7 linked regions of the Homo sapiens genome follow. The protein of the gene in region 1 interacts with the protein of each later gene in a pairwise test. Each region holds a gene or a part of one and is shown on either strand. Other genes may lie near its edges.

Region 1 (3,500 bases):
CAGGCATGGGCCACCACGCCCAGCAGGGGATCTGCTTTTAAAGGGCTCACTCATAGGGCTGTTGGCAGGATGCCTCAGTGCCTCACCACATGGGCCTCTCAGTAGGGTTGCTTGTGTGTCCTTGTATCACGGCAACTGGCTTCCCCCACTTGGATCTTGCAAGTGAGCTGAGAGAACAAAGTAGAAACCATAACCTTTGGCCAGGCATGGTGGCTCACGCCTGTAGTCCCAGCACTTTTGGAGGCTGAGGCAGTTGGATCACCTGAAGTCAGGAGTTCAAGACCAGCCTGGCCAACATGGTAAAACCCCATCTCTACTAAAAAATACAAAAAAAAAAAAATTAGCCGGGTGTGGTGGTGGGCACCTGTAATCCTAGCTACTCAGGAGGCTGAGGCAGGAGAATCACTTGAACCAGAGAGGCAGAGGTTGCAGTGAGCCGAGATCACGCCACTGCACTCCAGCTTAGGCAACAAGAGTGAAACTCTGTCTCAACAACAACAACAAAAAAACGTGTAACCTTTTTTATGACCCAGCCTCAGAAGTTGTACACCATCATTTCTGCAATATACTAGTGCTTACACAGGTCAGCCTTACTCATTGTGGGAGAGGACTACATAAGGGTGTGAATACTAGGAAGTGGGGATCATTGAGGACATCTTGGAAACTAGCTTCCACAGAGTAAGGTCAGGATTTGCAGGAAAGAGGAATCTCAGGTTTGGGGTATGTTAAATTTGGGGTTCCTATTTTATACTCTGGTGATATTAAGAGGCAATTAGATGTACCAGTCTAGAATTTAGAGGAGTTATCAGCAGGTACAGGGTAGTTTAAACAACTGGACTAAGAAAACCTGGGGAGTCAATGTAGGTAGAGGATAGGTCTACGGCCTGTACCCTGGGTATCTCCAATATTTAAAAGTCAGGACAGGAAGGAAGATTGGGACGGATTAGCCATTGACGTAGAAGAACCAAGAGGTGTCCCAAAAGCCAAGTGGAGAGAGTTTCAAGAAGAGAGAGTGAGCAGTTGTATCAGAAGCTACTGATAGTCCAGTAAAATGAGGAGTGAGAATTGACCATTGAAATTAGCAACAAAGAGATTCCTGGAGACTTTGAAAGGAACAATTTTGATACTGTTGAGGATGAAAATCGGATCAAAGAGCAAAAAAGGAAGTGGAGACATTACCTATAGGTGACTTGGGAGTTTCACTGTAAGGGAGAGCTGAGAAATGGAGTGGGATCTGAAGGAGAAAGTGGTGAGATGGTGGGTTTGGTGGTGAGAGCAAGTGAAGTTCTGTTGCTTCTCTTTTCTTAGTGGAAATTGAAAGCAAGGACATTAGCTAAGTGAAGAAATAGGAGGGGGTTTTGGGAGCCTAAGGAGAGAGGAGAAGGTCTAAGTCACCTTAGAGAGTGGGAGAGTGAACTGATTAGAGAAATGAAGTGGAATTGCCAGGCAGTCCTAAAGGAGCTTCAGGAAAGAAGTAGGTACAGAGAGTTGAATGGAACCAGGGTGTGGGTTTTGCTGGATTTGTAAATGAAAGACGAGAGGAACAGGGAGTTGTGGTTATGTGCAAGAGAATAATTACAGTGGACCATGGGATTTCAGGAGGGAAGTGAGGACGTGATAGTGTCAGCAGTGTCAAAGAATTGGTGGATTTCGGGTACTAAATAGTGAACTTGGAAAATAAGGGTAAGTAGTTGAAGACTCAGACACTTGAAGTTGAATTTTGGAAGATTTGCAGTTATTGGCAGTGACAGGATCTAGGTATGAGTATGAAAATGGGTAGCTGAGGTGAGATGGCAAAATCAAAAGATTATCATGAGTCGGGAGGTCAGTATTCATTATTGAAATCACCAGTTATGATGGGGTGATTAGAGTGAGGCAAGGAGCCGGTGCAGAGGGAGAGGTGTGAGGAGAAGCACCATGGCAAGAGGTTAGTGGCATACACGTTGGAATTAGCTGAAATCTGTTTCCTCGGTTGCATTGGGCAAAGTCACTTCTCATCAGTGAGCCTCAACATCTTCTCAGTAAAACAGGGATAATTACCGCCACCCTCAAAGAGTCATTGTGGGGATGAAATGAGATGATGGTTGTGAAGTACAGTGATCTGTACACAGCTAATGTTCAGTATTTACTGTTGACTGTTTTCTTACTGTTTCTTTTATTAAAAGAATTGATATGTGTGTAGAAGTGCTTAATGCCTGACCCGTAGCATGTACTATATGAATATTAGTTATTATAACTTTTATTATCCCTAAGCAAAGGGCTTGTGCAGACTGGAGCCACCGATTTCACTGTGTCTGGCCCCAGCTGATGCCTCTGCTTCTCCCCTCCCCTTAGAGCTTGGGAAAGTCGAGGTGACGGTGTTTGACCCTGACTCCCTGGACCCTGATCGCTGTGAGAGCTGCTATGGTGCTGAGGCAGAAGATATCAAGTGAGCTGGCGGGGAGCGGGAGCAGGGTTCCCATCAGGCGCCATCTGTCAGTCAGCCTCAGCCTCAGTCAGACTGTGGCAGGTGGGGAGGTCAGACCAAGAATCTAGAGTGGGCGGGGTATGTGCCTCTGTCATTGATCCTGGTGCAAGCGACTGAGGCTTTGTAACCAGGCCCTATCTGGGAGCTGCAGACCTAGAGATGAAGCTGAAGTGGTCTCTGCTCTTCCACCTAGAGAAATGGTTCAGAGGTGGTCTCTGGAGTCCAGTTACCTGGGTTCTACCCGTTTCCTTGGGCCAAGCCATGTAACCTCTCTATGTGAAGAGGGATGATAATAACATCTTCTCGTAAGAGTCACATATGGATTAGCTGTATACTGTGTGTAAAGCACTGAGGTGGAAGGCCCAGCCCAGATTATTAGACCCTCAGTATCTGATAACTGCTGCTGTTTCCCAGACCCTGACTTCTGCAAGACTGATTCAGCAGGTCTGGAGTGGGGCCTGGGAATGTGTACTTAAATTTTTTTTTATTGTGGGAAAATATGTGACATAAAATTTACCATTTTAACTATTTTTAAGTGTGCAACTCAGTGGCATTAGGTATCTTCACAGTGTCATGCAGTCACCACTCTCTGTCCTAAAACTTGTCATCGCCTCAAACAGAATGGGAATATGTATTTTTCACAGTCCTAGTCTGGGCACAATGGCTTACACCTGTAATCCGTAGCACTTTGGGAGGCCGAGGTAGGTGAATCACTTGAGCTCAGGAGTTTGAGACCAGCCTGGGCAACATAGCAAGACCCTATCTCTAAAAAAATTTTAAAAATTAAAAAAAGAAAACAGTCCTTCTGCCACTGAGGAAACACATTTGGAGAATGTTTGGTGGTCAGGGATGAGGCTAGCAGAGCCTTCATTAGCAGGCAGAGCTGCTCGGGCTCTATTTCCCCAGATGCCAGCACTGGACTTATGCCTCTTTAACACTCTCACCGTCACTCCCTGCCCTACAGGTGCTGTAACACCTGTGAAGATGTGCGGGAGGCATATCGCCGTAGAGGCTGGGCCTTCAAGAACCCAGA
Region 2 (2,543 bases), on another chromosome or scaffold:
TCCACCCAGTGTCCACTGGCCTGTCCTTCAGGGAGCAGAGCAGAGCAGGTGGTGGACGGGCCCAGTGCTGGGTGTTTTCACCACCATCCCCCCATCCCCCATCTAAGAATCCTAAGAGGCAGGCGATCCCTCACCTGCTTACTCACTCAGCAGTTACCCGGCCCCTGTGCTGGAGATACCAAGGGCATGGGTGGTCCCTGCTTCGATGGCCCCAAAGCTGGGCCAGAGTTAAGGGAAAGAGGAGGAAGTCCTAAGCAGAGAAGTAGCACCATTATCCCCATTTAACAGAAGGGAAACTGAGGCTCGGCAAGCATAGGCGAGTTGGCAGTGGAACACGGATCTAAACTCAGGTGTGTCCAAGTCCTCCCAAAGGACAGCAGTGATGGAGAGGACCCCAGCCAGCTGTGTGACAGCTGGTTGTTGCTGACTTCATTTTCCAATCCGGAGAAGGGGCTCTGTCCACAGTCCCCCGCCGCCAGGTGGCCCACATGGGACCAGCATGGGGGCAGGTTATCTGTTGGCCTGAAGAGTGAAACCTGTACCAGGCCAAAGGTGAGGGCGTGAGTGAGGGCAGGAGTGTTTATGGCAGAGTGAAGTTCTGTGCCCACCACAAGAGGCTGTGAGATGTTCTGACCCTCACCCACTGTCCACCAAAAGCCTCTCCTGCTGATGGGCACTAGGAGACCTCAGGGTACTGCCCATCTGTTTCTCCTCGGGTGCCAGCCAGCTGCTGGTGATCCTCAGCCGGAGGGCAGGGTACCAGGTAAGCTTAACTCCATCTTGGGTGTTTGTGACAGGCCCTGCCTGCCACCCTAGGCAGGGAAAGCTGTCAAGACTCCTGCCAGGAATGGGGGGTGCTGAGTCATCTCACGAAGAATCCCTCACTCTTCCCGGGTTCAGCCCAGAAGCCCTTCCAGGCATGATCTTCCCCATCAGGCTGGGCTCTGGCAGGGACCTGCCCAGGATGGAGATGAGAGAGGGTGAGAGATGGAGGGCGAGATTTGGATGGGACCCAGGGCTCCTGACTCTGCCCTGGAAGGTTCATGGGGAAACTCGCTCCTTCTGTTGGCAGAGGACAGCCCCTGGGGAACCCCAGGCCCAACTCTGTCCGGTATCCCTTTTCCTCCCAGCTGCCCTCCCCTACTTCTCCCTTGCTCCCAAAGCTTTCCTTGGAGAAGGGCCCTCCTGCAGCTGGACCCTGCAGGGTGGCTCCCTCCTCCCCATCAAGCACAAGAGAGGGCCCAGGAAAAAAGGTTTCACATAAGTGTAGAGTCGCAAGGACGCTTAGAGTCGGCAGAGTCTGGGGTAGGGAGACAGCGACTTGTCCAAGGTCAAGCACAGAGGGAGAGGTTCAGGAGTCAGGTCTTCTGCCTTCTGAGTTGGCTCATCCTGGGCAGTCACAGACTGTCCTGCCTGCACGGCTCCTATCCACCTGGGGGTGTCGCAGTTGAGGGGCTAATTCCCAGGGGACTGACGTTAGTTCCCTACTCCATCCTTCCCTGGTGATTCTTGATCTTCAAAGCCTCGGGGATCCCAGGTTTCCCCATGTAACTGAGACACCCTGCCTGTTAGCCCTGGGAGACCCCTAACCTTGGCCCAAGACCCCTTTGATTCTCTAAGGAGCACGAAAGGGGGAATGCCCCTCCCAGGAGTTTATGGGAGAAGGGACTGGGCCGGCTGCCTCCCAGCGATGCACTTGACCTGACACTCCCCATGTCCTGGTGCGCACAGCCCTTGTCGGTGCCCCGGCCCCTCCCGCAGCGTTACTGCCTGTGTATAGTATAAATATATATATTTTCTATATATAAGATGTATAATATAAGGCTCCACAAATATATCTGTGTGTGTGTGTGCGTGTGTGTGCGGTGAAGGGCGGTCCCCATCCTGGGCCCCCACTCTAGACCCCCCCACCACCTGGTTAAGTCTCGAGTGAATCCAGTGGCCCCGTGGCACCCTCCTTTATGACATCCATCCATCTGTGGTGAACCAAGTGAAGGTGGTGACTTCTGGTGACATAGTAATAAAGTGAAGACTCAGAACCCACCAGCGATTGCAAGTGTGTCACCGTGTTTCTTTGTTCTTCATTCTGCGTTTGGCTTGGATGCTCCATCCCGTTTGTCTCCTTAGACAGGCCATGTCTTACTTGGTTATTATTGTTTGTTAATTTTTCATTACACAATGAACCTATGAATATATTATCTTTTTAAAAAGTAAAATTGGCCGACTGCAGTGGCTCATGCCTGTAATCCCAACACTTTGGGAGGCCAAGGTGGGTGGATCACCTGAGGTTAGGAGTTCGAGACCAGCCTGACCGACATGGTGAAAACCTGTCTCTACTAAAAATACAAAAAAAAAAAAAAATTAGCCGGGTGTGGTGGCAGACGCCTGTAATCCCAGCTACTCGGGAGGCTGAGACAGGAGAATCACTTGAACCGGGGAGGCAGAGGTTGCAGTGAGCCAAGATTGTGCCATTGCACTCCAGCCTTGGCATCAAGAGCAAAAATCCATCTAAAAAAAAAAAGGAAAATTATTACAGTTGAAGC
Region 3 (3,500 bases), on another chromosome or scaffold:
AATTTACAAGTGCTGTTTCAAGAGATATGGATACAGGAGTACACAATGACAACCATAGGGCAGTTTGTCCCTAGATATGTGAAAGGCAAAGAATCTTAACTATAATATCCATTAGCATGATTAACTTGCATGTTTATTATCTTCACTTCAGTCTCCTCACCCAATGAGTCAGTACTCATTTTCTAAATTTTTCATTACTAACACTCTCCTGTGGTTTCTAGATAGCCATTAGGTAGAGGAAAACCTGGAGAGCATGATATCCTGGAAGCCAAGTGAAGAAATTGTTAGAAGAAATGAGGAAGGATCAACTATATTATATTTTGTTGTTTTGTCAAATAAAATGAGGACTACGAATTGACCATTGGATTTAGCAATATGGAAGTCAGTAGTAAATTTTACAAGTAGTTTCAGTGGAATTGTGAAGCAAAAACCTGGTAGGAGTTGATTTAAGAAAAAAATAGGAAGAGAGGAATTACAGACAGCAAACAGGAGCTTCTTTAAGGACTTTACTGTAATGTGGTATAAAGAAATGGGGTGATAGCTGGGGAAACTTGGCTCAAGAGAGGGTTTGCTTATTAGTTTCTGTGAGTTGAAAGAAACAGCATCATATCCTTTGTTGAGAGGACTGAACCAAAAGAAAGAAAATTGATGATATGAGTAAATGGGGGTGGGTATTGGGATCAAGTATTTGTGTAGGCAAGAGGTGATGGATTTTGATGCACAAATAGCTAGGAGCATAGAAAGTTTATCTAGGGCATGGTTCTCAGCTAGAGGCAATTTTGCCCCTGATAACATTTTATAATATCTGGAGATATTTTGGATTTTCACCGCTGGAGATGTACATCAGATGGGCAGGGGCAAAAGATGCTGCTAAATAGCCTGTGATCCACAGGACAGCACCTCACAACAAAGAATTATCCAGTCTAATTATAAATGGTTTCAAAGTACAAAAACAGAAGGGAAAGGCAGAGAAAGGAGAGTTTTCTTTGATAGGATGTTGGAAGCCTGTGGAAGTTTTTTTTTTTTTCCAGTAGCTTCAAATAGCTCAATGAATTAGGAAGCAAGATTATGAGCTGAGATTGAGTATGGGGAAGTGGTTTGGTTGTTTGAGGAAAGGCAAGAGAATATGAAATAATCATCGAGGAAAAGTGAGAGTGCACAGATTATGGAGAGGTGGTTTTATTTTCACACAGCATTAAGGACATACTTGAGGTTTAGGAACAGGATATGAATATGGGTTGTATGCCTTCCTCAGGCCATGTTCAGCTGCATGAGTGCAACCATGCAGTAGGATAAAAACAATCAGGATCTTTGTTTAGCTGTGCAACTATAATAAAACAAGAAAGGTGCAAAGCAATTGCAAGTGGATATAGGGCAGTGTTTGTAATGGTTGGCCATGAAATTTAAGTTAGTGATGGAAAGAAGAATTTAACAGAGAGTTGAAGTTCTCAGATTATAGACCCAGGTGGGGTCAAAGGGTTGTTAGAATTTTAATACTAGAGGGCATGAGCTAGAAAGATAGCAGGTGATGATCAGGTGGAATACTTGAAATTAAGATTTGAAAGGTACAACAAGGACAAGAGAATGATTATGGGAGTGAGTGACTAAGATAGTTTGGAGTCAGGGATTGGAGGAGAGAACAAGAACCACAAGCCCAAGGTATAGAAAGATGATATGGTTTGGCTGTGTGTCCCCACCCAAATCTCATCTTATAGCTCCCATAATTCCCAAGTATTGTGGGAGGGACCTGGTGGAAGATAACTGAATCATGAGGCTGGGGGGGTGGCGAGTCATTCCCATGCTGTTCTCATGATAGTGAATAAGTCTCACAAGATCTAATGGTTTTAAGAAATGGGAGTTTTTCTGCCCCTGGCCCCTCCTAAATTTCATGTCTTCACATTTCAAAACCAATCATGCCTTCCCAACTGTCCCCCAAAGTCTTAACTCATTTCAGCATTAACTCAAAAGTCCACAGTCCAAAGTCTCATCTGAGACAAGGCAAGGTCCTCTCCACCTATGAGCCTGTAAAATCAATAGCAAGTTAGTTACTTCCTAGATACAATGGGGGTACAGGCTTGAGTAAATACAGCTGTTCCAAATGCGAGAAATTGGTTGAAACAAAGGCTACAGGCCCCATGCAAGTCTAAAATCCAGTGGGGCAGTCAAATCTTAAAGCTCAAAAATGATCTCCTTTGACTCCATGTCTCACATCCAGGTTATGCTGATGCAAGAGGTGGGCTCCCATGGCCTTGGGCTGCTCTACCCCTGTGGCTTCACATGGTGTAGCCCTGATCTGGCTGTTTTCACAGGCTGGCGTTGTCTGCAGCTTTTCCAGGCACACGGTGCAAGCTGTCAGAGGATCTACCATTCTGGGGTCTGGAGGATGGTGGCCTTCTTCTCACAGCTCCACCAGGCAGTGCCTCAGTAGGGACTCTGTGTGGCAGCTCCGACCCCACATTTCCCTTCTGCCCTGCCCTAGCAGAGGTTCTCCATGAGGGCCCCGCCCCTGCAGCAAACTTCCGCTGGGCATCCAGGCAGTTCCATATATCCTCTGAAATCTAGGCAGAGGTTCCAAAACCTTAATTCTTGACTTCTGTGTACCCGCAGGCTCAACACCACATGGAAACTGTCAAGGCTTGGGGCTCGCACCCTCTGAGGCCATGGCCCAAGCTCTACATTGGCCCCTTTCAGCCACAGATGAAGCAGCTGGGATTCAGGGCACCAAGTCCCTAGGCTGCACATAGTACAGGGGCCCTGGGCCCGGCCCATGAAACCACTTTTTCCTCCTAGGCTTCAGGGCCTGTGATGGGAGGGGCTGCCATGAAGATCTCAGACATGCCCTGGAGACATTTTCCCCATTGTCTTGAGAATTAACATTCAGCTCCTCATTTCTTATGCAAATTTCTGCAGCTGGCTTAAATTTCTCCTCAGAAAATGGGTTTTTCTTTTCTATCACATTGTCAGGCTGTAAATTTTTTTGAACTTTTATGCTGTGCTTGCCTTATAAAACTGAATGCCTTTAACAGCATCCAAGTCACCTCTTGAAAGGTTTGCTGCTTAGATCATTTCTTCTGCCAGATATCTTAAATCATCTCTCTCAAGTTCAAAGTTCCACAAATCTCTAGGGAAAAATGCCACCAGTCTCTTTGCTAAAACATAACAAGAGTCACCTTGCTCTAATTCCCAACAAATTCCTCATCTTCCATCTGAGACCACCTCAGCCTTGATTTCATTTTTCATATCATTATTGGCATTTTGGTCAAAGCCATCTGACAAGTCTCTAGGGAGTTCCAAACTTTCCCACATTTTCCTGTCTTCTTCTAAGTCCTCCAAACTGTCCTAACATCTGCCTGTTACCCAGTTCCAAAGTCACTTCCAAATTTTTGGGTATCTTTTCAGCAGCACCCCACTCCTGGTGCCAATTTATTGTAATAGTCCATTTTTATGCTGCTAATAAAGACATACCTGAGACTGGGCAATTTACAAAAGATAGAGGTTTG
Region 4 (3,500 bases), on another chromosome or scaffold:
AGCATGGCACCGTTTACAACTCTGCTTGGTGCTCTATGGCCAGAAAACCTCTGTGTTTCTTGTTTGTTTTTGTTTTTTGAGACAGAGTCTTGCTCCGTCACCCAGGCTGGAGAATGCAGTGGCGTGATCTCGGCTCTCTGCAACCTCCGGCTCCTGGGTTCAAGTGATTCTCTTGCCTCAGCCTCTAAAGTAGCTGAGATTACAGGCACCTGCCACCATGCCTGGCTAATTTTTGTATTTTTAGTAGAGACAGGGTTTTGCCAAGTTGGCCAGGCTGCTCTTGAACTCCTGACCTCAAATGATCCACCCACCTCAACCTCCTAAAGTGCTTGAATTACAGGCGTGAGCCACCGCACCTGGCCAAAATCTCTGTGTTTTACTTTCCAGAGGAAAATAACCTGCATTTGTTTGGGGTTTAGACTTTCAGTCAGCTCTATTTGAGCACCTCCCCAACCCCTGCCACCCCCGCCCCCCAACACACACACACTCTCTCTCTCTCTCTCTTTCACTCACTTACTCACACATACACTCTTTCTCTTACTTGCATATAAATCTAATATAGCTAACTCATGAGCCTTTCAGGGATTCCGAGTAGTAAATTTTATTAGTTCTTGGCTTTCCCTATAATCAACCAAGGTTTTAGTTTTCTCAGATCTACCAAGTCTTTTACCAATTGTTTACTTTCTGCTTTCCGTAATTTTATTTTATTGCTATTATGTGCCCTTTAATCTTTCTAGCTTGAATTATGACTTTTACAGTGTGTGTGTATGTTTGGGTGTGTGTGTGTTTATTGTCATTTTAGTGGGTTCAGGGAAGGATTCAAACTACATGTGTTTAATCTGCTCTCTTTACCCAGAAGTATCACATAATTTTATACATTTGAAACACAAGAAATGTTTCTTTGAATTTTGAGCTCAGGAATTAAATTAATTTAGAAAATAGATTTGAGGGCAAATTATTTTTTCTTTTCAGATGATGAAATGGAATTGGAGCCGCTGAGCTGGATAGGTGAAGGCACTAATGATGAAGGAAAAATAGGTATAGAACATTAAAGAAAGTCATGTATAGCTAAGCAGCAAAAGATTGGATTTTGCTTAACCTTCACATTTTCTAGGAGGAAAAAAATGTTTTTCTTTCACTATTAAGAAAAACCTGATTTGGAAACTAAATAGAGGTGGTGGCCATATACATTGTGAATATAGTAAATTACCGCTGAATTGTTCACTTTCAAAATGGTTAATTTTGTGTTATGTGAATTTCACTTCAGTTAAATTTTTTTTAACCTAAAAAACCGACATGAACATTTTCAAAGCTTACAGCTACATTGACATCTGGCTTTTGGGGATAACAGATAAATTGACTCCTTACACAGGTCTCCTTAAGTTGTGTTCCATTGTCTACCTAGGAGCTTTGTAGAGATTAAAAAATGCTTACAAGTATAATTTTAGAAGGTTTTTCAGAATGTTATTCATTTTGGGAAAACAAAGAGCAAGATCTATTCCAAGGGGTAGCAAGTGAAACTGATATTTTTCTCTAGTAAAGAAAGTGAAAGGAGGCAGGGTGCAGTGGTTCACGCCTGTAATCCCAGCACTTTGGGAGGCTGAGGCAAGAGGATCACTTGAGCCCAGGAGTTGGAGAACGGCCTGGGCAACATGGCAAAAACCCCATCTCTACAAAAATTAGTTGGGCATGGTGGCACACGTCTGTAGTCCTAGCTACTTAGGAGACTGAGGTGGAAGGATTGCTTGAGACTGGGAGGTTGAGGCTGCAGTGCCATAATTACACCACTGCACTCCAGCCTGGGTGACAGAGTAAGACCCTGTCTCTCAAAAAAAAAAAAAGAAAAAAAAGAAAAGAAGGTGAAAGGAATTAACACATATTTAATGTATATACTTCCTACCATCAGAATCTGTTCATTGGAACAACATAATTCTTGATGCACACAAGACCTTTTGACACTTTAATCATTCAATCTTTAATAGAAGAAAGGGAAATTCTGATGGGATGCTGGCACAGTTCCTATAAATTTATATAAATGTATATTGCTAATATCGTATATGAAAAACATTTATTTATTTTATTTTATTTATTTATTTTTTTGAGACGGAGTCTCGCTCTGTTGCCAGGCTGGAGTGCAGTGGCGCAATCTCAGCTCACTGCAACCTCCGCCTCCTGGGTTCGAGCAATTTGCCTGCCTCAGCTTCCCAAGTAGCTGGGACTACATGCGTGCCACCAGGCCCAGCTAATTCTTGTACTTTTAGTAGAAACGGGGTTTCACCATGTTGGCCAGGATGGTCTCAATCTCCTGAACTCATGATCCGCCCCCCTCAGCCTCCCAAAGTGCTGGGATTACAGGTGTGAGCCACCGCGCCCGGCCAAAACACTGTTTTTCAAAAAAGTTTACTGGCATCTTATCTAAAATGTGTTATTTTTCAGTTTAGTGTGTCTTAGAGCAGGGTTCCCCAACCCCTGGACCATGGACCGCTACCACTCTGTGGCCTGTTAGGAATTGGGCTGCACAGCAAGAGCGGGCCAGCAAGCATTATCACATGAGCTCTTCCTCCTGTCAGATCAGCAGAGGTATTAGATTTGCATAGGAGCATGAACGCTATTGTGAACTGTGCATGCGAGGGATGTAGGTTGTGTGCTCCTTATGAGAACCTAAGAATTACCCTGATGATCTGAAGTGGAGCAGTTCATCCCAAAACCAACCCCCCTCTCCATCTGAGGAAAAATTATCTTCCATGAAACCAGTCCCTGGTGCCAAAATGGTTGGGGACTACCATCGTAGAGAGCATGTGTCCTGAAGCCATAATGTCAGGGTTCAAATCCTGGCACTGCCTCTTATTAGTTAAACCTGCCATGCCTCATTCTTCTCATCTGTAAAATGGACAAGATAATAGGGCTATTGTGATGAATATGAATGAATACATGTAAAGATCTTTTAATCTTATCTGATACAGAGTGCTAAATAAGTATTATCTGCTCTTTTTTCTTGCCATTTTCTTAAACTGCTATCTATAAAGCACATCTGGAGGACTGTACATAATATATGCAATGTGAAGACTCCTTCATTACCAGGGTATCTTTGTCATGGCTCCAGTGAGCACTATAGTTGCAACAATGCCATCGGCTTCCTCTTTCTCATTACATTTGTGGTTGTGGTTAAGTGCAACCTATTTTTCCTTAGAAACAGAATGGTTTTGCTACCTTTATTTTCTAAAGAATCCTAGACTTCATAATGTAGTGGATTTGTTTGAACAGTAAAATCAAGAAACTATAAACAGTGTTTATTTTCAACTCTCTGTGTTTGGTTTAGACATAATCCCTATTATTTGTACATTTTCCCTGGGAATCAATGAAAAGACTGGGAATGAATCTGAGCTGTAAACCTGCCATTGGAAGATGTAATTAGTCAGTCAGTGGCCATAAAGAGTATTCGATTTTTTTAAAAGCTATTTTTCCTTACCGGTATTGTGTGGCTGCAAGTGATAAATGAT
Region 5 (2,858 bases), on another chromosome or scaffold:
CGGAGTTTCACTCACGTTGCCCAGGCTGGAGTGCAATGGCGTGATCTCGGCTCACCGCAACCTCTGCCTCCCGGGTTCAAGCAATTCTCCTGCCTCAGCTTCCCAAGTAGCTGGGATTACAGGTGCGCGCCACCACGCCCGGCTAATTTTGTATTTTTTAGTAGAGATGGGGTTTCTCCATGTTGGTCAGGCTCGTCTCGAACTCCTGACCACAATTGATCTGCCCGCCTTGGCCTCCCAAAGCGCTGGGATTATAGGCATGAGCCACCACACCCGGCCCCCAGGCTTCCTCTTTTCTTGCTGCTCAGACAGACATATAAGGAGTCAGGCCGCCTTCCAGATGTGTAGCCTTGGGCAAGTTATTTGATGCGCCTGTGCCTCATTTCCTCACCTGTAAGATGGGGATGATGACAGTACCCACTTTGTAGGGGTTCAGTGACTAACGCGTACAGCAGTGCGTGGGGTGTAGTAAGCACGTAGCGCTATGTATTGTCATCAGCATCCTCATCTCACCCGAGTTCCCCTGTGGAAAACCCTCCTGTCTTAAAAATCAGGGCCTTGGGCCTTGCCCCTTCCCCTGAACCAAAATGTGCCCTCTTCAGTACTGTGTCCCCTACCAAGGTCCTGACTACTCTCATTGGTGGCTTGTGAGGTTTCCATGCAGCCCAGCACTTCTGCCAGACTGGGGGGCTTCCCGAGGGCAGGGTGGGGTTGTCCTCCCTGGACCCTCCACCATACTGCCAGGGCGCTGCTCCACATGCGACCCTCTAGAGGCCTTCAGTGTTGGATGTCGGTGGAAGGGGAAAGAGGAATGGGAGGAGGTGTTGTGGGTCAGCGGCCACCCCGAAGCTGAGCTGGTGGAGGGTGGAGGCCAGAGCCAACCCCAGAGGTCTTGCCCTTGTGTACCGGGCTTTGTCCTAGCTCCCAAGAAAGTCACCTTTGTTTTCTGGAATGCGCTGCATTCGGCACGGTGGTCAGTGAAGGCCTCTGGGCCTCCTGGTTTGCAGGGACCCACCCCCACCCCACTCAGCTTGCTCCCCATTTATTGCCTCCCCCAGGGCCAGGATCCTCTTCCTGCTCCAGTTGCTGGCCGACCACGTCCCTGGCGTTGGCCTGGTCACAAGTAAGCAGGGATGGGGACGCGATGACTGTAGTGCTGGAAGGCGCATGCATGCAAGCACCTCCCTGACTCCTCTGTCTCCTTGCAATTTGATTCTTGGCACAGTCAGGAGAGGAAGTCGGGAAGTCAGGATTGGGTGGGACTGCCCCTGGGCATAGGCCAGGGTGGCCTGAGGAGCCAGGGATGGCTGGAAGGAGGGTGTCCACTGGTGGGGGGACCACATCAGCTGCCAGCTTTTTTCTGGTCACAGTATCCTGGAGCGATACGGGACCATCTCATCTTGGGGGGATTCAATGGCAGAGAAGGGGTCCACCGGGCTGCTGAGATCCTCCCTCAGCAGAGGCCCACTGGGCTTGGGTTGGGTGACTGGACCTGACTCAGGCCCCTCAGTGTCTACCCTGGCTGAGCTTCTCTGGGCCTGAGGGTCTTTGTAAATGGTGCCAGAGTCCCCTGCAGTGCTGCCTCCTGGGGGCAGGGCAAGACAGCCAGCTGGGCTGGCTCCTGGGCCGCAGGGGTGAGGTGCTGTATGTGGCGCCACAGTGCAGATTGGGGTCTGGCCTGCCCTGATGTGTCCCTCTCCCACTGCAGGGCCGCTCATGGATTACTTGCCCACCTGGCAGAAAATCTACTTCTACAGTTGGGGCTGACAGACCTCCCGGAAGGAGGGTGTGGGGAGGGGTGGGGCAGGGAGCCCCTCTTCCCTAATAAAACTGACTCCGGCAGCGTCCCAGCGTGCGGCCTCTCCGTGCCTACCGGCCAGGCCCCACACACAGCCCTGGTCGCCACCAGCGTTCCTCCCAGGACACCCTTGACTGCGCTCTCCTGTGACGATGCCACTGCAGCCCGCACCTTGTCACTGCTGGGCCAAGAAGCCTTCACTAGGAGTGGGATCCAGGCTCCTCTCCCACAGAAAGCGGTGACTTCACCTCATGGAGCCCGGGAAGCTGCTCGCCTCGGCAGCCATAGGAGCGAACACTGCTGCTCTCTCGCTGGCCCCTGGTGAGGACAGGAAGCCTGAACCCGGGTGATGGCTGAACGCTGCCCAGCGTGTCTTCTGGCTGGGGCCCTCCGTCTGCCCCTTCTCCGCAGGGCCCTGTGGCTCTGGCAGCCCCAGGCCATGGCGTTGCCAGCCTCCCTGTGACAGAGCCTGGTGAACAGTGAGCCTGGCTCCCACGCAAGTGGCACTTTAAGCCCTGCATCCTCGGTTGAGAGTAAAAGGCTTTTCTCCCTTAGAAAAAGGACATCGGGCACTGGCCAGCACTGGGGAGGGAGTGGGAGCTGGACAGGCTCGGGGAGGAAGCCGGGGCCAGTTCAGGGGGTATGAGCTGGGGTTTCCCCATGCTTGCCCTGCAGGCTCCAGAGGCCGGGTCCACCTGGAGCCATGCAAGCTGCTATGGGGGAGGGCCTGGACAGGGTGGGCCGCAGGCTGGTCGTCTTCTCCCTGAACTTAGCCTGTCCTCAGCCACTGGCCCTGTGAAGAGCCAGCCTCTCATGCTAGAGTTTCAAACCCACAGAGAGGGCTCCATCTACACCTTGGTCCTCCATGCCTCAGCTCCTCCAAGACACACTGCTTTCCCCAGGGCCCTCTGAGGAGCGCCCCCCAGGTCCTCACCCACAGGCAGGGGAAGGGGCTGCCTGGGCTCCCATGGCCTCCAGCTTAGTGGAACAGGCGTTTCTGGGCACATGCCTGGCCATCAGAAACCAGCAGTGAAGCACAGTCCCCTGCCCTCCGCCTCTC
Region 6 (3,500 bases), on another chromosome or scaffold:
GCCATCCTGTAAAGGGGTCATTTACCCCTGAGCTGCTGGCTAACTCATTGGACAGAGCAGTCAGACCTTGCAATGCCTTTGTTATACTTCCATTAGGGGCAGTGTTGTTTGGGATGAAGGCACAACATTCAGTTTTAATCATGATGCAAACTCCTCCTCTTTCTGCTAATATCATGTCTAAGGCTATCCTATTTTCCCAAGCCATCTGGCAGTTAGTCCCTAATTGCTCAGCTATTCCTTTAACAGCATCTCTAGTGTAGTTCATAAATTGCTGTTGGTTATAATAGATGTAGTTTATCCAATCTATGTTTTTATTAATTGTGACCCACCAAAATATTGACTCAAATCCTGCAGCTATTTGATTTCGGGCTTTAAATTGATCTGGTATTCCCCGTGGGACTCCAATTGCATCTAAATAGACATGAGAGTTGAATGACCTATAAGGAGCTTCTCTCACTTTATGATGTCTTATTTTTCCTTCCTCTGGTTGATGAAATGCCAGAGTAAAAGGGATAGCCAATTGAACTAGAGCATAACTACTGCTCTAATTATTTGGCAGAGTGTCCAGTAAAGGTCCTCCATAATACCACCATACATCCGCTCAGGGATGAATAAGGGCAGATTGACGGGTCACCTCTTGGAAGTGCCTAACTTCACTGCATCCTGTTAAGTCTCCAAGAAATGCCAAATTTTTCCCCGTGTCGTTAGAGACACGAGGTAAAATTGGTTTTGGAAGATGGAGGCTGGATGGCCCTTGGGGGCTGACCTGCAGGGTGTTGGACTTCAGGAAATAGCAGAGAAAGAGCTTAGCACAATTTGTTATTCCAGGCAGTAGAATCTTGAAAAAGCTACCATGCACTCCATGTCCACTTGATTTGAGGACCATCCCAGTGGAAAGGTAACAACCTGGGCCTCTAGCCTACCGTGCACACAAGTGTAACAGTTACTTTTGTTTAAAGTGTGAATGGAATATTTAATACATTTTAACCAGGCATTTACATCTTTATACCCTGTCAATAGCTATGGTTTGCCTTAGGTCTCCTATTTCTACTACTGAGACCTTGCTTTTGTCATTTGGCATGAGGCGAGGCATAGTTTTATTTCGTAGGTTTGTGAAAGGGGCAGTTGTAGGAGGTAGAGCAGGGAGAACAAAGCGCATCTTAAAGAAGCCTATAGGGTCCTTTCCAGTGACTTCTGCTCCTAAACCATAGAAACGCTCTAAAGTGGGGTTAGAGTTGCTAGTGGTAGGAACAGTAATGGATATAGGCACTGTGTTAGGAAAGGAAGGAAAAGATAGATAGACTAAGCTTTTCTTAGCTTTAATTTGGTAAGGCTTGATCCAGGAACAATGGTCCATGATTCTGATGGTAATGGTGCTTGCTTGACTCGGGTGTGATGTGTCCATCCCCCTTCTGTGGTACAAACCATAGTCTTGGTGGTTAGCAGCACAAGGTAGGGTCCTTCTCAGGCTGGCTTGAGTTTTCCTTCTTTCTACCCTTTGATGAGGGTGTGATCCCCAGGCTAGTGCCCGTTTACCAGAAATTCTAGGGGTGGTACCTGTGCTAAAAGACTTGTAGTTTTGAGGGAAAGGAAAGTGGAAGATAAACCAAGTATATAATTTATGAGAAACTGATCTTTTGTTTTAAATTTGGGGACACCAGGCTGGGCGCGGTGGCTCATGCCTGTAATCCCAGCACTTTGGGAGGCCGAGGCGGGTGGATCACCTGAGGTCAGGAGTTTCAAGACCAGCCTGGCCAACATGGAGAAACCTTGTCTCTACTAAAAAATACAAAATTAGCCAGGCTTGGTGGCACATGCCTGTAATCCCAGCTACTTGGGAGGCTGAGGCAGGAGAATCGCTTGAACCTGGGAGGCGGAGGTTGTGGTGAGCCGAGATCGCGCCATTGCACTCTAGCCTGGGCAACAAGAGCGAAACTCTGACTCAAAAAAAAAAAAAAAAATTGGGGGACACCAGCAGTGGACTTTATAGTCCTTAGTGCCTTCTTCCTGAGAAACTTCCTTTAGAAACTTCCTGAGAAACCTATTTTTATTAGTTTTTAGACCAAAGAAAGCCAAACACCATTTTATATTTGACAGTGCTTCCTGTATGATTATACCAGATAAGCTAAATTTCACCTTTATATTAGTGTATTATTAATATTAAACTCAATTTTAATAAAACCCTGTAGACATATTTATCCGATTTTAATGTCTGACCATAAGGTAAGATTTCCATAGACTCTTTTTAACCTTTTATAAAATTTGTTAAAGAGCAGTTTAGTGTTTTTTAGTGTTTTAAGAAAAACCCATTGTGCTTTTATTTTAATGTCCAGTTCACAGAAAAACTGGATGATACCCCTTTAACTTTAGCCAATATGGTTACACACAGAATTTCCTTTACAATTAACATTTTAAAACTTGCTTAAACGCTCAAAACAAAATTTTTTTTAACCTTTTAATGTAGGTAAAAATCCACATTCTATGCCTCCTTATTATCCTTTTACCAAAAGTATATTTTACTTTCATTATACACCTTGCACATAAACTGTTTCTTCAATAGTTTTACATTCAGGAGGCCTAATTACTTTTAAATTATACAACATTTCTTGCATAAGTTCCCTTTTATAGCATTTTTCATGACTTTCGCAATCTTCGACAGGCCTCAATTTTCTGACTTCCTGTAAACATCGCTTTCTTTAAATAACCAGTTAATTTATTTTAGGATAATAATTTACCATATAACATTCTTTTTATATAAATTCTCCCCCCCCTCCTTTTTTTTCCCCCAAGATGATAACCATTCTTTTCCAAAGCAAACTTCCTTCAGGTCTGTGGACTAGACTGCCTAAGGCCACAAGATTAGAAGTTAGGATAATACATATTACACTGCTAACTTTTGGCAAACTTTACCTTTGTGGAAAACCTTGTAAGTTTGGTATTTCAATTATCCTTTGCTATTAATAAGACTTTCTTTAGTTTAAATTAACTTAGAATTGGTATAGACCACTCCTTCCTGATTCTGTAAGTACTTTAAGGCTTAGCTGAGTGCAAACAGCTTACCAACTATTAGGCAATTTTCCTAACTCTACTTCTATAAGAGTTTCCCTATCACTTACTGAATACCCGTTGTGGCTTTTTCCCTCAGTCACACGGGAGGAACCATCTATCGTCCTGTCCTGAAGGGAGTTCCTTCTAGGTCTGGTCGGACCTTTATATGGTAATTAATTAAGATTTAGATCCCCTGTGAGGAAACCTGCTGGGTTAAGGGAATTATCAGTGGTTAATGTTAAATCATCTTTTTCTAACAGAATAGCCCCATACTTTAAGATTTTTGAGTTAGTAAGTTACCTTTTTGTCTTAGGATACTTCTGAACTGGGTGAGGTGTGCTCACAATGAGGTTTCCTCTAAAAGTTATTTTTCTACTTTCTTCTGTTAGCAAAGCAGTTGCCGGTACAGATTGAATGCATTTGGGTCATCTGCGGGTTACTGGGTTAAGGAT
Region 7 (3,500 bases), on another chromosome or scaffold:
AAAGGTATGCACATTCAAAGTTCAATAACAGTGAACTCAGATTCTTTTCATTAATTAGTTCACATCATGTATTCATTGAGTGTGCCTTACAGTGTGTATGTGTTTGTAGGTTTATGGGGGGACATACAGTGTTGAGTCAAACAAACTTATTCTCTTCCCTTATAGTACTGTACAGAGTGCAATATTAGTGTTACATACAATCAGAGCTGTAAGAAATCAGTGAGAGTTTTGCTTCATAGGGAAAATGAAATTTCTATTGTGCCTTGAAAGAAGTTCCTATTCACACCTTGACTGTCCTTCAGTGATCAGTGCTGTTACCTCCTGTCACTGCTGCTGCATCTGCTCATTGAGCATATGGAGACTTCTAGTTTTGTTTGTTTTTAATAGATGAGGTCTTGCTGTGTTGCCCAGGCTGGTCTCAAATTCCTGGCCTCAAGTGATCCTGCCTCCCTCAGCTTCCCAAGTAGCTGGGATTATAGGTGCAAGCAACTGTGTGCAGCAGGCTCTGAGACTTCTAGTTTTGATATCATTCCTTTCCCCACATTCTCAAGTCACTGTTGAATCTGCTTTAATATCTGTCCAATCTAATCCCCATAATCCAGATCTTCAACCGCTCTTTTGGCAAGCAGTCTCAACCTCTTGGGGCTCCGTTTTTCTGCAACCTCAATATTATAAGCTTCCAACTATAGATTAGTCCAACCATCCACCTTCTCCTGGACTAACTCAGGCCGATGAACTCTTCTGCAGAAAAAAACCACACACCTGGGACGATTGAAGCCACCGTAGTATATTGCCTCAAACAAGTTTGTTTTATCTTTAGTAATCCTGTGCAGTCCCGGTCCCTTTCCTCCATCATTCTCCTTACTGTATATTCTGAATGATCACCCATTCTTCAGCAGATAGCCCGTTTTCTCCCTTTACTGAGAAAATTGATGGCAACAATTATGTTAAAAAAAAGTTCACGCCTGTAATCCCAGCACTTTGGGGGGCCGAGGCGGATGGATCATGAGGTCAGGAGATCGAGACCATCCTGGCTAACAGGGTGAAACCCTGTCTCTGCTAAAAAATACAAAAAAAAAAAAAATTAGCCAGGTGTGATGGCGGGCACCTGTAGTCCCAGCTGCTCGGGAGGCTGAGGCAGGAGAATGGCCTGAACCTGGGAGGCGGAGCTTGCAGTGAGCCGAGATCGCGCCACTGCACTCCAGCTTGGGCGACAGAGCGAGACTCCACCTCAAAAAAAAAAAAAAAGTATAGTTAACTAACACCCTGAACTATGCCGTTTCCTGTTAATCGCCCAACATATTTATATATGTATTCACTAAGGCCCACTCCATCTGTTGTTTGATAGCCTGATGACTATGAAGTACTATATTAGGCAGGGAGGTGTACATTCTTATCCCTTAGAGTTCCATAAAAGTAGCACCTAGAAAGAACAGTGGATCTGATACATGGTAATTCTTCAAATATATGTTGAAGAATAAATGAATCTCCCTCTTGACTCTCAGCTAGCATTCTGCATAAGTTATTGTGTCTCTTTCCTAGAGCTTCAGTTTGCCCCCTCCCTGCTTTGGCTCTTTCCTGTCCAACTGTCTATTTAAGAGAAAGAGATGCCAGTAAAGAACCCTCGCCGCTATGAGCTCCCGTCCTTCTGTATTAACCACTTTTCCCTTCCTCTTCACAGCCACGCTTTTTCAATGGGTAGATGATGTTACTGCTTTTAGAACTTTCATTAAAATATATGTTTCTCTTGAGCAGGGAATGTATCCTGAATATTCTTGTGTATTAGTACCTATTTTTGTATCTTCTGGACAATCAATAAGCAATCCAGAAATGTGTATCAAAATGAACTGAACTGAATATTCTTTGGTTAACAGAGAGTAATGGAAAGAATTGGTCTGATCTCTGTTTGGTTATTTATTTTTTAAATTCATTTGGAGTATGAATATTAGAGACATATGTGGTTTGCAAGGCCCTCCAGGGGTCTTTTTCAGTTCTTTCCTAACTAACAGTGTTTCAAAAGTGGCTTCTCTAGAACCACCTTTGTGACTCTGATCCTTGCAGGTGAAGGAGTACCTCCTGGCAACTATGGGAACTATGGCTATGCTAATAGTGGGTATAGTGCCTGTGAAGAAGAAAATGAGAGGCTCACTGAAAGTCTGAGAAGCAAAGTAACTGCTATAAAATCTGTAAGTATATAACAAATATTATATGTGTTTTAATTCATATATTTCTATACATATAATTATAAACTATATATTCTTATTGACGTCATCCTAAGGAATTCATTTACTCAGATACTGTGGTTTTGTGAGGTCAAAGTACACTCAAAATTTAGACTGTGCTTTGAGTAAGTTAAAAAATGTGGCACATCAAAAGATAGATTTTTTTTAATACTTAAGAAAAATCTCCAGCTCTTTTTTGTATACTGTATGCTGTCTGCTGTAATGTCTCAAACAGAGCTGTCCATCTTCCACCCCCAAGTAGCTCTTCTGCTTTTTTTAATCTAGCCTTCTAAGCTATAAATCTTGGTCTTTCTTATTTCTACCTTTGTACTTCATTTCAGTCACTGAGTCTTACACTGTCTTTCTGATGTTTCTATCTTTGCCTTTCTATTTCTAATACTATCCCCTGGTTTTCTTTTCTTTTCTTTTTTTTTGAGATGGAGTTTTGCTCTTGTTGCCCAGGCTGGAGTGCAATGGTGCAGTTTTGGCTCACTGCAACCTCTGCCTCCTAGGTTAAAGCAATCCCCCTGTCTCAGCCTCCCAAATAGCTGCGATTGCAGGTGCCCGCCACCACACCCGGCTAATTTTTGTATTTTTAGCAGAGACAGGGTTTTACCATGTTGGCCAGGCTGGTCTTGAACTCTTTATCTCAGGTGATCCGCCCGCCTTGGCCTCCCAAAGTGCTGGGATTATAGGTGTGAGCCACCGCACCTGGCCTATCCCCTGGTTTTCTTAGTTGAACTATTGGAAGAACATCTTAACCTATCTGTTCCTGTTTTTTTGCACATTATGATCTGAGCTATATAATCATTGCCACAGTCCTCGTTTAGAATATTTTAAAACTTGCATCCTGCACTCCCAGAAGTCTTCAGCGTCCTTCCATGATTTAATAAAGTTCATGCTTCGTAGCTTGATTAAATCAGATAGATCTTTCAAAAATTGGCCTTAGCTTTTGAGATCTTATCTCTCACACTTCCAGAATCTGTATGTGCTTCCTGCTAGACAAATTACACTTTGTGTCCTCTGTATGCTGTCACTTTCCCACCCCCATATCACACTATCCCTTTGCCTTAAGCCTCCACTTCCTTCTTAGATCAACTGAAGTGCTGCTTATCCACATCCGCCCCACTTCATTGCACCCCCTCCCTCCAAACTTTTACCTGATTACCACATCCAAAAGTAACTTTTCTTCTTATGAACATAAGACCATTTGTGCCATTTCTGTAGCACTTATTCATAGTGATTTGCATTGGCATTATTTGTATGTAAAAGGAATTT

Evidence for each region.
Region 2: the proteins of ERGIC3 (region 1) and SYNGR1 interact in binary tests that used the Homo sapiens proteins (3 or more experiments, as listed by UniProt).
Region 3: the proteins of ERGIC3 (region 1) and MS4A13 interact in binary tests that used the Homo sapiens proteins (3 or more experiments, as listed by UniProt).
Region 4: the proteins of ERGIC3 (region 1) and MFSD6 interact in binary tests that used the Homo sapiens proteins (3 or more experiments, as listed by UniProt).
Region 5: the proteins of ERGIC3 (region 1) and PEX16 interact in binary tests that used the Homo sapiens proteins (3 or more experiments, as listed by UniProt).
Region 6: the proteins of ERGIC3 (region 1) and SLC35A1 interact in binary tests that used the Homo sapiens proteins (3 or more experiments, as listed by UniProt).
Region 7: the proteins of ERGIC3 (region 1) and BET1 interact in binary tests that used the Homo sapiens proteins (3 or more experiments, as listed by UniProt).

What each region holds. Positions count from the first base shown.
Region 1 is NC_000020.11:35,545,078-35,548,577, forward strand, and holds part of ERGIC3 (endoplasmic reticulum-Golgi intermediate compartment protein 3), read left to right. Parts: intron 1-2,334; coding exon 2,335-2,428; intron 2,429-3,431; coding exon 3,432-3,500. UniProt on the Homo sapiens protein: Possible role in transport between endoplasmic reticulum and Golgi. Positively regulates trafficking of the secretory proteins SERPINA1/alpha1-antitrypsin and HP/haptoglobin.
Region 2 is NC_000022.11:39,383,533-39,386,075, forward strand, and holds the end of SYNGR1 (synaptogyrin-1), read left to right. Parts: 3' UTR 1-2,043; downstream 2,044-2,543. UniProt on the Homo sapiens protein: May play a role in regulated exocytosis. Modulates the localization of synaptophysin/SYP into synaptic-like microvesicles and may therefore play a role in synaptic-like microvesicle formation and/or maturation.
Region 3 is NC_000011.10:60,518,392-60,521,891, forward strand, and holds part of MS4A13 (membrane-spanning 4-domains subfamily A member 13), read left to right. Parts: intron 1-3,500. UniProt on the Homo sapiens protein: May be involved in signal transduction as a component of a multimeric receptor complex.
Region 4 is NC_000002.12:190,432,355-190,435,854, forward strand, and holds part of MFSD6 (major facilitator superfamily domain-containing protein 6), read left to right. Parts: intron 1-972; exon of another isoform or gene 973-1,038; intron 1,039-3,500.
Region 5 is NC_000011.10:45,909,163-45,912,020, reverse strand, and holds the end of PEX16 (peroxisomal biogenesis factor 16), read left to right. Parts: intron 1-1,058; coding exon 1,059-1,123; intron 1,124-1,708; coding exon 1,709-1,767; 3' UTR 1,768-1,843; coding exon of another isoform or gene 1,844-1,932; 3' UTR 1,933-2,358; downstream 2,359-2,858. UniProt on the Homo sapiens protein: Required for peroxisome membrane biogenesis. May play a role in early stages of peroxisome assembly. Can recruit other peroxisomal proteins, such as PEX3 and PMP34, to de novo peroxisomes derived from the endoplasmic reticulum (ER).
Region 6 is NC_000006.12:87,479,474-87,482,973, forward strand, and holds part of SLC35A1 (CMP-sialic acid transporter), read left to right. Parts: intron 1-3,500. UniProt on the Homo sapiens protein: Transports CMP-sialic acid from the cytosol into the Golgi apparatus, functioning as an antiporter that exchanges CMP-sialic acid for CMP. Binds both CMP-sialic acid and free CMP, but has higher affinity for free CMP.
Region 7 is NC_000007.14:93,997,856-94,001,355, reverse strand, and holds part of BET1 (BET1 homolog), read left to right. Parts: intron 1-2,061; coding exon 2,062-2,186; intron 2,187-3,500. UniProt on the Homo sapiens protein: Required for vesicular transport from the ER to the Golgi complex. Functions as a SNARE involved in the docking process of ER-derived vesicles with the cis-Golgi membrane.